2 separate regions of the Homo sapiens genome follow, and region 2 is linked to region 1. A link means that fine-mapping ties the variant in region 1 to the expression of a gene that starts in the linked region. Tissue or cell type: esophagus mucosa. Region 1 holds a variant in brackets; the other region holds the start of a gene. All regions are shown on one strand. Distances are from middle to middle.

Region 1 (8,376 bases):
ATGGCTTCCTCTGCCACCATCTGGATGCAGCTTCCAGTCACCACATCATGGAACTGGTTCAGAAGAAGGAGCCTGCAGGGGCCAAGGGCAGGGATGGGAAGGCTGGGAGGGGCAGGCACAGAGGTAACTGCAGTGAGCAGTCAGGTGGATGGCAGGGACAGAACTGGGCTGACCTCCAGAGGTGCTGCAGCTGGGCTGCTGGGTATAGGAACTGGGCACTGCGGGCCAGGGCCAGGCTACTGAGCAGCTCCACGTCGTGCAGGATCCGCTCACATTCCCGGTTCCCCTTCTTGATCTGAGCCCAGGATGGGAAGATTAGTCTGGAGCCTGCTTAGCTGTCCCAGGACACCTTCCAAAGCCCTCCCTTGCTCAGAATCCCTGAGGACTCACCAAGGGCCTCGTGGAGAAGGCCTCTGGCGGGTGACCTGCCTTAAATGCCTTCCCTCTTCTCCCCGCAGCCCAAACCCTTCTTTCTTCAGGGGTTTCTGCCTCCTTCAAGCTTTCTTGACCAACCCAGGTCTTGAACTTCTCTCCTCCAAACTTCTCTTCCCCTAGATCTGGCCTGGGCTCTGTCCCCTGCTGCCTTCTCTGACCCTCTGCAGATCAAGGGCACACCCTCCCTGCACAGCCCTGCAACCTCCCCCTGACCTGGGCATGGGTGGTGTATGTGCCATTGTGCAGCTCCAAGAAGAGCTCCCCAACCCACGTGCACAGCTGCTCTGAGTCACTCTCCAGTGCTGAGAAGAGCTGTCTTGGAGAAGATAGCTGCACCCTGAGGAGACCACAAGCCTAGGTCTCCCAGCCTTGGAGACCACATGGCTCACCCTTCTTCCACACCAAAGCAAAGGATCCAGCTCCTACAGAGAGGAGCCACTCCAGAAAGCTCCCCGTTCACAGATGGCCAGCCCTGGACGCCCTAGGAGAGCCTCTCTCTCTGATGGGCTGGAGCCCTTACCAGCTTCAGCTTCTCCCCCACCCACCCCCAGGGTGGAAGTTTGGAGGAACCCGTGGTCTAGGATTGGGACAGGACAAGGTCCAGAGGAGGGGTTGGGCCCAATGTCTGAGGGAAGGCAGGGCTCATGGCAAGGGCCCAGGGTGGGGCTAAAGGAGAGCCAAGGCCTGGCCTGACCTGGGCAGCCCATCCGTATTGCTCAGGCGCTTCAGGCGGTCCAGCATGGTCTGGGTGGGGCCACCACCCCCATCCCCAAAGCCAAAGAGGAAGGCACTGTGGTTGGCCCGCCCCTTGTCCCGGTTGTTGGCCACGGTCTTCAGCACCTAGACAGGTGAGGGCAGGCCAGCATGGATCAGCCTGGAACAAGCCAGCCCTCTCCAGCCTGCCCCTACCCCACCACCCTAGGTGACCCCTCACCTCCTCCACGCTGCCCTGCATCCCATAGGAGTCGCCAGGTGGGAAGTGGACCAGTACACGGGAGCCATCCAGGCCCTCCCAGAAAAATGTATGGTGCTACCAGCAGGGAAACAGAAGCAGGGCAGAGAGGCCAGAGTCAGGGCTGAGGCAGAGCCAGGCCTTCCAGACTTGGTCCTGCCCCTGCCTGCTATGTGACCCTGGCAGAGGCAGAGTGAGGGTTTGGTGGTCTGTCTAGGACCCCACAATAAGGGGGAGAGGCAAATGGGCCAGGCGGGACTGAGGCCCACTCTGACCCTGACCCCCCGGGGGCCTGCTTACTGGGAAGGAGTTCACCAAATTCCAGCTCAATTTCTGGGTGAGAAAGCGCCTGATGCCACAGCCGTGCATGATCTGGGGGAGCTGTGCTGAGTAGCCAAAGGTGTCCGGCAGCCAGAACTGTGGAGAAAGAGGATCCTGGAGTGCAGGAACCAGAGCTCCAGGCGGACTCACCCCAGCCTCAGCCCCTCAGCACTCCAAGTCGAGCGCCAGCCCCACTCGCCCACAGCCTGGTGTAGCAGCTCTCAGCCTACCTCAGAGCACATCTTCCCAAACTCCTGCAGAAAGAAGTTCTGGCCCTGCAAAAACTGCCTCACCATGGCCTCTCCACTGGGCAGGTTCCCATCCTGGCAGTGAAGGAAGTGGGAGGCAGCCCAGGTCAGCGCTGGACGGGGAGCAGGCAGGCGCTCAGGCCAACCCAATCCCTGCAGGAGAAGCCAGGGCTGCTCAAACATGGGAGTTACAGCCAGAACTCAGGAAGGGCCCCTGTCCTTCAGGCCTGACTGTCCATCTGCCTGAGGGGGTGCCCAGGACTAGGCCATGCAACTTGTCACAGCGCTGGAGGCTCTCCTCCCCCTTGAAGTCCCAGGCCTTGAGATCCCAGGGACTAATGAGCCAGCCCTGCCACACAGCGGGGATGAGTGGCCCGTGGAAACTCACCAGCAAAGCCGGGAGGGCGGGGCTACCTGAGGGAAGGCTGTTGTCATACAGTTCAAGGCTGAGGAGTGCCCAGTGCACTTACCATCTCCACCCAGGTGCCCCCCACAGGCACAAACTGCCCACGGCACGCAAACTCCTGGATGCGGGAGTACAGGCCAGGGTAGCGGCTCTTCACCCATTCCAGCTGCTGCGCCTGTGGGCAGGTTGAAGGGAGCTGGGACCAGAGTGACAAGGGCCCCACCCAGGACTGAGCATATGGGACTCAGTGTGTGGCTGAGGGTGAGGAGCAGCCCTGACCCCAGGCCTGGGAAGCCTTCAGGGCCTGTGGAGCTCCAGGGAGGGCCACGTGCTTCCCTCCTCCCTCACAGCTGTCCCTCTGACCTGGGAGCAGGCAAAGATGAACTCAGGGTTCCGCTCCATGAGCTGCAGGGCGGTCACCCAGCTCCGGGCACATTTCCTCACAGTCTCTTTGAAGGGCCAAAGCCAGGCTATACGGGGAGTGAGGTGGAGGACAGAGGGAGCAGCAAGGCTGACCAGGCCTGGGCTGGGACTCCAGAGGGTCACCTAGCCCCCCTCCCATCCCAGGCCCTTCACCCTGGAAAGCCCTGTGGTGTCCCTCCTAAGTGGTCACTTCACTTCACTCCAGCGAGGTGGGAGGAGGGGCTGGGGAAAGGAGGCGGCAGTGCTATGAGGCCAATTATACAGGTCAGGAAATGGAGGCTCCAGGCCCCAGAATAGCCTCAGTCCTCTTGGGGAATTAGACATCCCCTAGAGGATCCTACGAGAAGTAGCAGGGACTACCCTGCCCCTGCACAAACTTGATGTATACCTGGGAACAGAGGCATGGCTCCCAGGATGGAGCCAGCTGTCCTACCAGAGGTGCTACAGCCTCTCCTGACTCCCAGGCTGCAGTTCCTCCCTTACCAGCCCAGAACCTCTCACACCTTACCCTACATCTTGGCACAGCAGAGAAAGCCCTTGTTCTGTGATCCCAAAACTTCGGCTGCATCAGAATCAATACCTTCAGGAGCTTGTTAAAAATGTGGATTTCCCGTAAAACTCAGACACTGCAAACTTGTCCAGGAAGCCTCTCTGGAATCCCCCAACCCAGCTGGAGTAAGTACCTCTCCTGTGCTCTCCAGTGCCTCAGACTCCCCACCATTGTGACACCAACTCTGCCTGCTGAATCTGTCTCTGTAATCCTACCCTCAATATCTAGCATGGGCCCCATGAGGCATCAGATTTTGTTGAAAGAATAAATGAGGCTGGGCACGGTGGGTCATGCCTGTAATCCCAGCACTTTGGGAGGCCAAGGCAGGCGGATCACCTGAGGTCAGGAGTTTGAGACCAGCCTGGCCAA[C/T]GTGGTGAAACCCCGTCTCTACTAAAAATACAAAAATTAACCAGGCATTGTGGTGGGTGCCTGTAATCCCAGCTACTAAGGAGGCTGAGGCAAGAGAATCGCCTGAACCCGGGAGGCAGAGGTTGCAGTGAGCCGAGATCACACCATTGCACTCCACCCTGGGTGACAAGAGTGAGACTCCGTCTCAAAAAAAAAAAAAGTGAATCCAAAGCAAGCAGAGCCCACAGTCCAGCCCCCCGGCCCCGTTTTACAGACGGGGAAAACGCAGGTCCAAGAGGAGCAAGAACTTGCTGAGCATCACACAGTGCTTCTAGGGCACATCCAGGTCTTCAAGGGCACTCCTGCTTCCCCAGCCAGCCCAACCAGCTGCTGTCCTACCTGTATCAATGTGGCAGTGCCCTGTGGCATGAATGGTGTGTTGGCTTTCACCCCCATGTTGGCCAAAGAACCTGGAGGCCAGGGCCTGGGCCACTGGGAAGGTCTCGGGCTGGGCAGGGTCACACACGTTCACCATCTGATTGGCTGTGTACAGGGCCTGGAAGCTGCGCTGGTTGTCCTTCCCGAGGCCCTGCAGCAGGGTTCTGCCCCTTAATCCCTTTTTCAAGCACAGCTTCCAGACCTAGGCTCCACTGATCTCAGGGCTCTCAGCAGAGCTCCCCTGACCCCCAACCCTTTTTCCCTGCTGGTCCCCCTGCTCAGCACCGTCTCCCTCCTCCCCTTCACATAGGAAAATTCTCTCAACCCTCAAGCAGGTGGAAACCCTCGTCCTACTCTGGATTCCCAGAGTCCCATTTATCTGACCCAAAGAACAACCTTCTTGGAGCAGGGCTCTAGAGGGTAGCAGGGGGTACAGGGGGTGTCAAGTACCTTGGCTATGCCCAGCAGCAGCTCCAGATCCACCAGGAGCATGTGGACATCCCGGTGGAACACAGCTAGCTCAGCCCGGCTCAGCTGGAACATCTTCTCAGGGTCAGGGGCTGCAATCATGCTTCCCTTCCCGGCCCCCAGGAGCCCATTGCAGGCTACTTCCACATAGAGAGTGAGGCTACAAAGATGGGGAGACAGCCTCAGGCTAAGGGACTGGCACAGTACTCCGGGGACTTGGGGAAGGGGCACCCAGGAGGCATCCAGCTGAGCCCAACCTGTCTGCTTCCAGGATCCACTACCCAGAGGATCCCACAGTGTGACAAGAGTGCATGTGGGAGGGTTGTGGTACAAACACCAGATGGATCCCATGTCTTGCTGTCAGAGAGAATAAGTAGCAAAGTTTGGAACCATGTAAAGTACGCTGCTGTTTAGTCTTATATTTCCAAAGTTGTCTTTGCAAAGCACTGCCTTGGTCTTGGAACCCTCTTTGCATATTAAAATCATGTTCGGATCTCCCAGGCTCAAACTTTTAGACCCAAGATCTAAAACCAACACGGCCAACATGGGCGGGCCATTCATTGGAGAACAGGCTGGGCTGTGGTGATGCCATACTTAGGCTTCAGAGAGCAAACACGACTTCCTTAGGGAGGCCTTCCTGACTCCACTTCGCTGCTAAGTCTAGAGCAAATTCCTCAGTGGAGTACCCAGGATTTCCTTCCAGAGCCCTCAGTTTTGTAATTATATGAGTGAATCTGTCTCCCTTTGTTGGCAAGGGCTATTTTATTCACCACCATACTCCCAGTGTCTGAAAGCATCTGAAACAGTGTCAATCTATATAAAATACATTCATAATGTCTAAGAAGTGTTTTTAATGGTGTCATAAAATGTCCATGTTATAACATGGAATGTAAGAAGTCAGGATACAATCTTAACTAGTAAAAACTATACCGGGATGAGCCGGGCACGGTGGCTCATTCCTGTAATCCCAGCACTTTGGGAGACTCAGGCAAGTGGATAGCCTGAGGTCAGCAGTTTGAGACCAGCCTGGCCAACAGAGTCAAACCCCGTCTCTACTAAAAATACAAAAAATTAGCTGGGCATGGTGGTGGGCACCTGTAATCTCAGCTAGTAGGGAGGCTGAGGCAGGAGAATTGCTTGAACCTGGGAGGCGGCGGTCGCAGTGAGCCGAGATCGTGCCATTGCACTCCAGCCTGGGTAACAAAAGCGAAACTCCGTCTCAAAAAAATCCAAAAAAACCCCCCCGAAAAAACAAAAAAAACTATGCCGGAAAGATACACCAAGAACATGAATACTGGGCCAGGTGCGGTGGCTCACGCCTGTAATTCCAGCATTTTGGGAAGCTGAGAGGGGCGGATAACCTGAGGTCAAGAATTTGAGAGTAGCCTGGCCAACACGGTGAAACCCTTTCTCTACCAAAAATAAAAAAAAAATAGCTGGACGTGGTGGCACACACCTGTAATCCCTGCTACTCGGGAAGCTGAGGCATGAGAATCGCTTGAACCTGGGAGGCAGAAGGTACAGTGAGCTGCGATCGTGCTACTGTACTCCAGCATCGGCGACAGAGGGAGACTTCGTCTCAAAAAAAAGAACATGAATGCTGAGATGTTAATAATGTTCATCTCTATTCTAGGGAGTGGAATAACGGTAGTTATTTACTTCTTTGTGCTTTCCTGTATTTACCACAGGCAAACATTGCTATTATTTTTGAGACAAGGTCTCACTCTGTTGCCCAGGCTGCAGTGCAGCGGTGTGATCATGGCTCACTGCAGCCTCATCCTCCTGGGCTCAGGTGATCCTCCCACTCAGCCTCCCAGGGTAGTGTGGGTCACTGCACCCAGCCCATTATTTTTATGGTTAGGAAAAAATCATGCTTTTAAAAGCAAACAATGAGATGTGAGGATGATTGTGCTAGAGCAGAGGCGGGCTTATGAGATCACTCTGGGCCTCAGCTCCTCCTTGCTCACTGGTACTCCCTCCCTGACAGCACTGGTCAACCAGGGCACAGGGACTCACCTTCGGGGGTCTCTTTCCCCCAGCCTGTCAGTCAGGACATAGCTGGTCTTCTCACCCTCTTTGGTTAAACCCTAGTAGGGAGGGGAGTGAGAGAGACAAGGCTTGAGGCTTTTGGACAGTTCAGGTAAAGTGTAAGCCATGGGGAGTCAGGCCCCTCCATCTGGTTCCCAGCTCTGGGTCCTCTCTCCCAAGCAGGGCCAAGATTGGCAAATCAGGGACCCTTGGCAGTAGATGCCCCAACTCCCATGGCAGCCAGCACCATGACCGTCAAATAGCCCCTGTTTACCAGTGGCAAACCCATGGTCTTATGGGAAGGGCCCTGGGAAGGGGTTAGGCAGCCTGAGTGTGGATTCTGGTGGCCTCTGCACCCCTAAATAAATACCGGGAAAGAAACTCCGTGAAGTCAGGGGCAGGTTTGCCTCATTCCCTGCTACACCCTAGTGCTTAAGGGTATGGCCCAGAATGGACACCAGGAGATATTTGCTGAGCCAGTGAAGGGAGGAAGGGATGGTCTCTGCCTTCTTGTAGCCAGGAAGAACAGTCTTAACCCCAGATTGAGAGTCAGTCCAATTTGAAATAGAAGCTGTGTGAACCTGAGTGAGTCAACTACACATCTGTTTCTTAATTTGTAAATGGGTATAAAGACCTACTAGATAGGAGTATAAGGACTAAACCTGATAAGGGTGGAGCATGAATAAGACACTTAACAGTGGTTATAGCTGGGGAATGGGATGGGTGATAAGGAGAGATCCATTACTTTATCTAGAACTGTTTGAAATGTTTTCCTATAAGTTTGTATTATACACAATAAAAACTAAGGACCAATTGCACAGATGCCCAAGTGGCAACTTCCCTAGTCCTGAAATCCTGATACCACCCTGTGGGCAGAGCAACTCAGCTGTGGCTTCTCCAGAGTCCACAGAAGAAGGGCTGTAGTCATTTCAGGGCTGAAATGTGGCCATACCTGGCCCTAGGACAGGGTTCCTCACCTGGACAGGTTCTCCATCACGCCACACCAGACCTTCTCCATCACTTTCCCAGCAAAGGTGAACTTCCTGGCCCACCCATGCCTCTGGGATGGTCAGCTCCACCCGGAACCAGCAGGTCCACCATCTGCAAGAGAGCTGTTGTGATAGGCCTAGAGGTAGAAGTCCTATCCTGATATCCTTCCTTGGATAAAGTGTCGGCAGGGGCTTGAAACTCTCCAAGCATCTGCAGTGTCACAAGGTACTCAGCTTTGAGTCACAAGAAAGGAGCAACAAGGTGAGAAGCAAGATGAGGGAAACAGGCAGAGGCGTCAAAGGTTCGTGATCCCTAGGGTGCCCTTCCTAAGGGATGTCCAGAGGCGGCCACGTGGGAATGAAAACCATCCCCTGAAGACCCAGGGACCAGAGAGCTGTTCCCAGCAGAGGGTGCTGCTCCCAGCAGAGGGTGCTGCTCGATCCCACGTAGTTGTCTACGGCAGAGGGCAGACAACGAAGGTGTGGCTGGGAGCTGGGTTGGGACTTCCCCTAGGCCTGTGGCCCCGCCCACCCGCTGGGCGTTACCTACGTGGGTCCGAAGCTGTCGCCGACCTGCGCGGGGCGGAAGTCCCGCTGGACTGCCTCCTGGTAGGGAAGTCTCTCCGGCGTCAGGAAGCTGGAGAGCACAGCCACAGGGCAGCTGGCCCCAAAAAGCCTGCGTGGGACGGGCCGGTGGGCACATGCTGGAGGCCGCCCCGTTTCCGCCTGGGGGCCAGCTGGCCGGTGGGGCCGCACTTTCCCTGGATCCT
Region 2 (8,215 bases), 29 kb before region 1:
AAACAAAGGCCTGGACATGGGGTCTTTATCCAAGTGCCCAGAAAACACACACAGAAAGGCTCTGCAGGCCCCCGTGGCCTGTCAGAGGTAAGAGCCTGCCCATCAAAATGCACAGTCCAGGTTCTTGCAGGGAGGTGAGGAGGGGAGGAAGAAAAGGTCTATCTCATTCTTTCAGCAGGAACCTAAACTTGGGAAAGCCAGACGCAGTACATTTCTTAATGATCCTGATACTTTTATAACTGGTTACAGCGGGGTCACATGCACAACTGTTTTCCAACATCTTTCAACGGGACACATAACATCCTGCAGCTTATTTTTTTATTTTGTAAGGCCAGGGGCAGTGGCTCATGCCTGTAATCTCAACACTTTTGGAGGCTGAGGCAGGAAGTCTGCTTGAGGCCAGGAGTTCAGGACCAGCCCAGGCAACATAGCAAGACCCAGGATACAACAGAGAAAGACCCTGGCTCAAAAAATATCTTTTCCAAGTGCAGTGCCATGATCACAGCTCACCATAGCCTCCAACTCCTGGGCTCAAGCGATACTCCCACTTCAGCAGCTGGGACTATCAGAGCGCAGCACCATATCTGGCTGATGTTTTAATTTTTAGTAGAGATGCGGTCTCACTATGTTGCCCAGGCTGGTCTTGAACGCCTGGCCTCAAGAGATATTCCCAATGCGACCTCACAATGCACTGGGGTTGCAGGCATGAGCCACCATGCAGCCCCTGCAAAATCTAACTGTCCTTCAGGTGCTCCTTTTGGACCTCCTAGCTAGACTGCCATTGGCAAATGCCAGTTGATTATCCACCCACATGTATGTTAATGGATTTCCCATGTTTTATTTGTCTAGACCAGGCTTTCTCCACAGCAGCACTGTTGATGTTTAGGGCTGGACAGTTCTCTGTTCTGGAGCTGTTTGCGCCTCGCAGGATGTTTAGCAGCATCCCCAGCCTCCGCCTGCCACATGCCAGCAGCACTCCTCAGTGTGACAGCCAAAGTGATTTCAGATACTGTCAAATATCCCCAGGGCGGCAAAATCACCTCCAGTTGAGAACTGCTGACCTAAAACCCTCTGGAACAATGTTAGATCATGGTAATGATAGCGCATACTGCTCCTGACCTTAATGGGAATACCTCTAGCATCAAAGTATAGTAGTACCTGTATACTACTGTCTGGGCTGTTATTAGTACACTGTATTAGTCCATTCTCACTCCGCTATGAAGAAATACCCAAGACTGAGTAGTTTATAAAGAAAAGATGTTTAAGTTGACTCACAGTTCTGCATGGCTGGGGAGGCCTCAGGAAACTTACAATTATGGCAGAAGATACCTCTTCCCAGGGCAGCAGGAGAGAAGGAGAGCGAATCAAAGGAGAAAGCCTGTTATAAAACCATCAGATCTCGTGATAACTCATTCACCATCACGAGAACAGCATGGGAGAAACCGCCCCCATGATTCAATTATCTCCACCTGGTCCCACCCTTGACACGTGGGGATTATTGCAATTCAAGGTGAGATCTGGATGGGGACACACAGCCAAACCAGATTATATCCTTTATATTAGCATACTGTATCGAAGTATAATTTTCTTTCTTTTTTTTTCTTTGAGATAGAGTCTCGGTCTGGCTCTGGCTGGAGTGCAGTGGCACGACCTCAGCTAACTGCAACCTCCATCTCCTAGGTTCAAGCAATTCTTGTGCCTCAGCTTCCTAAGTAGCTGGAACTACAGGTGTGTGCACCCCCTAGCTAATTTTGATTTTTTTTTTTAGTAGAGACGGAGTTTCACCATGTTGGCCAGGCTGGTGTCAAACTTCTGGCCTCACGTGATCCCGCCACTTTGGCCTTCCGAAGTGCTGAGATTACAGGCATGAGCCACCGCACCCAGCCTGAAGAATAATTTTTACAATGTTAAAAGCATGACTTTCATACAAATAATGAAGGAATATGTATAAGATATTTTCTTTAATTCACAAGGGAGTTAGCAACATGGTGAAGCAAGTTCAAGGAGCTTTTTGAGAGACAGTGTCTGTAATGCTCCAGGAAGGGCATTCTGAAATGTATTCTGAGATAGAGACAAAACTTGTTAATATCCTATAGGGAGGTCAGGCATGGTGGCTCACACCTGTAATCCCAGCACTTTGGGAGGTCAAGGCAGGCGGATGACCTGAGGTCAGGAGTTCAAGACCAGCCTGGCCAACATGTTGAAACCCTGTCTCTACTAAAAATACAAAATTAGCCAGGTGCAGTGGTGGTCACCTGTAGTCCCAGCTACTCAGGAGGCTGAGGCAAGAGAATCGCTTGAACCCTGGAGGCGGAGGTTGTAGTGAGCTGAGATTGTGCCACTGCACTCCAGCCTGGGCGGCAGAATTAAATTCCGTCTCAAAAAAAAAAGGGGGGCCGAGCGCAGTGGCTCACGCCTGTAATCCCAGCACTTTGGGAGGCCGAGGCGGGCGGATCACGAGGTCAGGAGATTGAGACCATCCTGGCCAACACGGTGAAACCCCGTCTCTACTAAAAATATAAAAAAATTAGCCCGGCGTGGTGGCGGGCGCCTGTGGTCCCAGCTGCTCGGGAGGCTAAGGCAGGAGAATGGCGTGAACCCAGGAGGTGGAGGTTGCAGTGAGCCAAGATGGCGCCACTGCACTCCAGCCTGGGTGACAGAGCGAGACTCCATTTCAAAAAAAAAAAAGAAAATCATATTGGGAAATAAAACTGCCATCTTTGGGTGTTATCTTTTCCACTGGACAGAAACCCTAAGTTAACATATATACATATTCTCAAGAATATTCATAACATATTCTGTAGTATATTTCCCTACACTAGTGGTTTTCAAAGCATGGTCTCAAATGTCACCTGGGAATATAGACACGCAATGCTCAGGCCCCACCTCAGTCCTATTGAGTTAGAAACTCTGGTGTGAGGCCCAGCAGCCGGTTTCACAAGCCCTGCAGGTGATGATGATGCACTCTAATGTGTGAGAACCACGGCTCTAAATAGTCAAATCATCTTTTTTTTTTTTTTTTTTTTGAGACGGAGTCTCACACTGTTGCCCAAGCTGACTGAAATGCAGCGGTGCAATCTCGGCTCACTGCAGCCTCCACCTCCCGCGTTCAAGCGATTCTCATGCCTCAGCCTCCTGACTGGCTGGGATTACAGGCACCCACTACCACACCCTGCTAATTTTTTTTGTTTTTTTTCAGTAGAGACAGGTTTTGCCATGTTAGCCAGGCCACCGCTCTCGAACTCCTGACCTCAGGTGATCTGCCTGCCTCGGCCTCCCAAAGTGCTAGGATTACAGGCATGAGCCACCGTGCCCAGCCTTTATTTATTTATTTATTTATTTATTTATTTATTTTTATTTTATTTTATTTTTCTGAGATGGTCTCCTTCTGTTGCTCAGGATGGATGGAGTACAGTGGTGCCATCATGGTTCACTGCAGCCTCCACCTCCCAGGCTCAAGAGATCCTCTGACCTCAGCCTCTTAGGTAGCTGGGACAACACGTGTGCACCAGGACAAGCGGGTAATTTTTTGTAGAGACTGGGGTCTCCCTATGTTGCACAAGCTGGTCTAGAACTCCTGGGCTCAAGCGATCCACCGGCCTTGGCCTACCAAAGTGCTATGATTAAAGGTCTTAACATTCTTAAAAAATTTTTTTGACATGGTTTAGGATAGTCTAGTAACTTAACGTACTGTTGTTTTCAACAGGCTAGTGGTTATGATTTGTAAAAGAACTCTTCAGAAATGAGCTCAATTTTACCATGAATTGGGGACACTTTACATTTCTATTTTATAGTGCAGTTTAATTGTCATGGGCTCTGTCTTTTAAAAACCTGAAAGCCTGCAACAATAAAACCAGCTGCACCTGTTGCATGGGATAGGCATGGAATTGAGGAGAGAGCTCAAACTACAGTCAGCCCTCTGTATCCTGAGGTTCTGGATCCTTGGATTTAACCAACTGTGCATCGAAAATATTTGGAAAAAGTAAAACAATAAAAAAACACAGGTCGGGTGCAGTGGCGGGCGCCTGTAGTCCCAGCTACTCGGGAGGCTGAGGCAGGAGAATGGCGTGAACCCGGGTGGCAGAGCTGGCAGCGAGTGGAGATCGCGCCACTGCACTCCAGCCTGGGCAACAGAGCAAGACTCCGTCTCAAAAAAAAAAATTAAAAAACTTTATAACAGCTATTTACAAAGCATTTACGTTGTATTAGGTATTATAGTAATCTAGAGATGATTTAAAGTATACGGAAGGATGTGCACAGGTTATTTGCAAATACTATGCCATATTATATCAGGGACTTGAGTATCTGTGAATTTTGGTATCTCTGGGGTCCTGGAACCAACATCCTGAGGTTACCAAAGGACGACTGTATTCAATTTTGTCTCTGGTTATTAGTCTATTCTCAAATGTATTTTTCTTGTTGTTTTGTCTTTTTGTTTTTGCCTCTTCAAGTCAATGTCGGAAACTTAGTTGTTCTAGACTACCCATTAGCTCAGAGCTACCAGTAATCAGACTACCACTGCAACCTAAGCAACCGATTTTTCTTCCCCATCAGACTGGCAAAAATTAAGATAAGCATCTATTGATGTTGAAGCTGTAGGGAGTTTTCCTGAGCAAGTAATTATGACAGCCCTTTTTGCTAGGCACCTAGATGATTCATCAAAATGAAATAAAATACCCATGCACTTGAAGAAGTTATCTGGTTTATTTCCTTACCTGGGTGCTGGTTATGTGAGGTGTACAGTTGATGAAAACTTATTAAGCTTTATAATAGGTACAATTTTCTGTATGTGTAGTAGACGTCAATAGTTTTTAAAATGTCTTTTGCCACAGCCCGCAGCTGTGAATAATGCTATTCGCTTAACAGTGGAAAACGTGTCAATGACCTGAAACACCCTGGCTCCCGGGATCCTACCCCCTTAAGTTAAACAAATGAAATAACTTCCACTGTCTTTCCTAATGTCTTAATTCGGTCCTCAGTTAAACTGGCGGTTGGCGCCAGTTTTTTCCAGGGAAGGATTCTGGGAGACGGAGGAGGAGACGCCAGCATTTCGCCCCCTGCACCTCCAGCGGGCTGCGGTCCGCTCCCGGCCTCACTCGAGCAGGCCCCGCCCTCCCAGAGGCAGTTAGTCCAAGTCACGTGATCGTCGACTCAGCTGACCCTGCGGGACCGGAAAAAGAAATTCCCGGGCCCTGGCTTCTTGGCGCGATGGTGAGGCACTAGGGGCGAAGCGAGGCTTGGGCTGCTGGAGCGGGAATGAGGGGGCGCCAAGTGGCTCCGGAAACTGGGGGAGGTTGTACTGGCCTCTCCGCAAACACAGTGTGTGCGGGCGTGAGGGCTGTGAGTCTGGTAGGGAAAAGTCCACCACTCTCCCGCTCCCGAGACGGGGGCGGGGGTACGGGGCGGGTAAGACAGAGCAGGCCGGCCGGCTTAGAGTCCCGGTGCTTCCCTGGCGGAAGGAAGGGCCCCTGCCTCCCGGGGCAGGAACTAGGGCTTGTCTGGAGCTGGGAGTCCTTTCAGGTCTTCCCCATCCCCAAGAGGACCTCCCAAGGATACCCCCTTCCCCAGCCCTGCCGTGGGGCTTGTACAAGAAGGTGCTTAGAATCAGGCTCACTCTTCCACACTGTTAGGAAGCCCCTCCGCTCTTTCCAGAGCCAGAAAGTAGTAGTTTTGGGGTTGAGACTTATCCATCCATCCATCCAATCCATCCATCCGTACGTTCTAAGCGCCTGGTCTATACCATGAAGTGTGCTAGGCACTGGGAGGACTTGAGCTGCCAAGGGAAGGGGAAATCGGAGGCTTGAATTGGAGTCATAGCTAAGGCTCCAGGGGCAGAGACCTAACTGCGCCTTGTGTGTAGTGCTAAGGGGGCTTCCTAAGGATGCCATCAAACTTAAAGGCGGATGGATGGCAGGAGCTGGCTGGCTGAAGTACAGTTTGTGTACCAGGGGTAGGGAGGCAAGGGTGGGAGACGTGTGTCTTCAGACAGGGAACAGCATGTGCAGAGACTTCAGGTTAGAGAGAGTATGGCTCCCCAGGAATGGATGCATTTCCCATAGCTGGGAGAGTATCATCTGCAGGTTAGGGAAAGATGAGGCTGGACAAGTAGAGAACAAATCTTCCTGGCTCTTGGATCACCACAATCAAGATAATGAACGTATCCACTGGCCTCCATAATTTCCTTGTGTGAGGGGCTATTTTAAGAAGTATAATCAAGAAAGGCTGTTCTGGCTGGGTGCGGTGGCTCATGCCTGTAATCCTAGCACTTTGGGAGAGTGAAGAGGGTGGATCACCTGAGGTCAGGAGTTCGAGACCAGCATGGCCATGGCACTCCAGCCTGGGCAACAGAGGGAGACTCTGTCTTATTTTTTTATTTTTTAAAAAAAGAAGGGCTGGTCTGATGTGTCACTTAAAGGATAGCAAGCCACTGGCCAGGCGCCGTGGCTCACGCCTGTAATCCCAGCACTTTGGGAGGCTGAGGGGGACGGATCACTTGAGGTCAGGAGTTCAAGACCAGCCTGGCTAACATAGTGAAACTCTGTCTCTACTAAAAATACAAAATTAGCCGAGTGTGGTGGCACATGCCTGTAATCCCAGCTACTTGGGAGGCTGAGGCAGGAGAATCACTTGAACCTGGGAAGCGGAGGTTGCAGTGAGCCGAGGTCGCGCCATTGCACTCCAGCCTGGGGAACAAGAGTGAAACTGTCTCAAAAAAAAAAAAAAAAGGATAGCAAGCCACACAGAGAGTGCAGCAGGCATGGAGGCGGGAGCAAGGCTGGTGTGCCCCAGCAGCAGCAGGGAAGCTGGAGTGGCTGGAGTTGTGTGGGTATGGGGAAGAGGGGAGAGAGTTCACTCGTCTCTGTGAGGCCCAGGACTTTGTTTTATCCCATGCTGTACCCCCAGCACTTAGAGTGGGAGCTAGCACAGAGAAGGTGCTTAATTGATGTTTGCTGAGCAGATGAATGCCTGGAGTAGACCTCAGAGCAGGGTTTGGTGGCAGGGTGGGTCAGGGAGAGAGTTTACTCAACAGCCTGGTGATAGGGGAGAACAAGAGGCCAGAGGGTATCCATCTATGTCGGGGACCAGGGGTCCCTGGTGGGCAGCAGTGTGGGAGACACACGGATCCTGGCCACACCTCAGGCCTCCCTCCAGCCTGATTACCTGCCTCCCTCCCTTGCAGAGGTTCCGGTTCTGTGGTGATCTGGACTGTCCCGACTGGGTCCTGGCAGAAATCAGCACGCTGGCCAAGATGGTTGAGTGCACAGGGTCTAGTCTGGGTGGAGGAGGGGTGTTGGGGGTGGGGATTGTGGGTGTAGAGGATGGTGAGGTTTCTCTGGGGCTAGGGCCTCAGTGCTCTCAGCCTGTGCTACCATGCTTTGTGACCTTGATCAGTGGCTGGCCTGCTCTGAGCCAGTCCCCAGGAAGGAGGGGTGAGGTTTGCCAGCCTGGCTGATGTAAGGACTTCCCTTCCAGTCCTCTGTGAAGTTGCGGCTGCTCTGCAGCCAGGTACTAAAGGAGCTGCTGGGACAGGGGATTGATGTGAGTACAAGATCCAGCACCCCATTGTCCCATGACCTTATGACCACCACTGCCCTGAAACTCTGCACTAGGCCCAGGGAGACGGGTGAGCCAGCCTCTCAACCTCTCTGGGCACCTCCCTTCCTTCTTTCCAGCCTGTCTGTTCCTTATCGCAGGATCCAGGCTGGGGGTGAGGGGCTGGTGAGCAGGGGCCTGGCACCCCCTGAAGGTCTCCTTTCCCCATAGTATGAGAAGATCCTGAAGCTCACGGCTGACGCCAAGTTTGGTGAGTATCCCGCTGAGTCTATAGGCCCCAGGCAACCCTGGGAACTTGGCCTGGTGCCTGGTACAGAGGGGCCCCCCACCCCTCCCAGCAGCATCCTTAACTTACCTTCCCTAGTGGAGGAGCATGAGGGAAAGAAAGACCGACAGTCCCACCTTCCTGTCCTCTGCCAGCTCCTGGTGGAGCAGTAGCAGTGCCTGTGGCTCCAGGAGGCCTGGGGGCTTTGAGCTAAAGTTAATAGGGCAACAGGGAGGTGGCTGGACCCACAGTGACACCCCCTGCCCCACCCACGGGTCCCTCAGAGTCAGGCGATGTGAAGGCCACAGTGGCAGTGCTGAGTTTCATCCTCTCCAGTGCGGCCAAGCACAGTGTCGATGGCGAATCCTTGTCCAGTGAACTGCAGCAGCTGGGGCT

Which allele goes with the higher level. Positions count from the first base shown, and alleles are read on the strand shown. Sizes are in standard deviations (SD) of each study's normalised expression.
With allele C in place of T in region 1, the expression in esophagus mucosa of the gene that starts at base 5,182 in region 2 is higher (moderate effect, 0.46 SD a copy in GTEx).

What was found. PIP is the estimated chance that this variant, and not a neighbour inherited with it, causes the effect.
Region 2: it holds the start of COMMD4, and the variant in region 1 is fine-mapped to the expression of COMMD4 in esophagus mucosa (GTEx, PIP 0.94).

The regions. Positions count from the first base shown.
Region 1 is chr15:75,359,917-75,368,292 of GRCh38, forward strand. MAN2C1 (mannosidase alpha class 2C member 1) reads right to left here. Exons shown (of 26, transcript NM_006715.4): 2 at 8,157-8,282; 3 at 7,595-7,718; 4 at 6,606-6,676; 5 at 4,572-4,749; 6 at 4,083-4,272; 7 at 2,726-2,832; 8 at 2,427-2,537; 9 at 1,939-2,031; 10 at 1,688-1,804; 11 at 1,370-1,465; 12 at 1,130-1,275; 13 at 649-772; 14 at 174-295; 15 at 1-72. Among named protein-coding and RNA genes, the nearest start is that of MAN2C1, 4.5 kb to the right of the region's middle. RefSeq lists a silencer at 8,358-8,376. The variant C/T (reference allele first, on the strand shown) is at 3,705.
Region 2 is chr15:75,330,882-75,339,096 of GRCh38, forward strand. It overlaps COMMD4 (COMM domain containing 4), which reads left to right and starts at 5,182. Exons shown (of 8, transcript NM_017828.5): 1 at 5,182-5,211; 2 at 7,181-7,252; 3 at 7,474-7,539; 4 at 7,765-7,804; 5 at 8,104-8,215. The coding sequence starts at 5,209. RefSeq lists enhancers at 5,016-5,065, 5,406-5,575.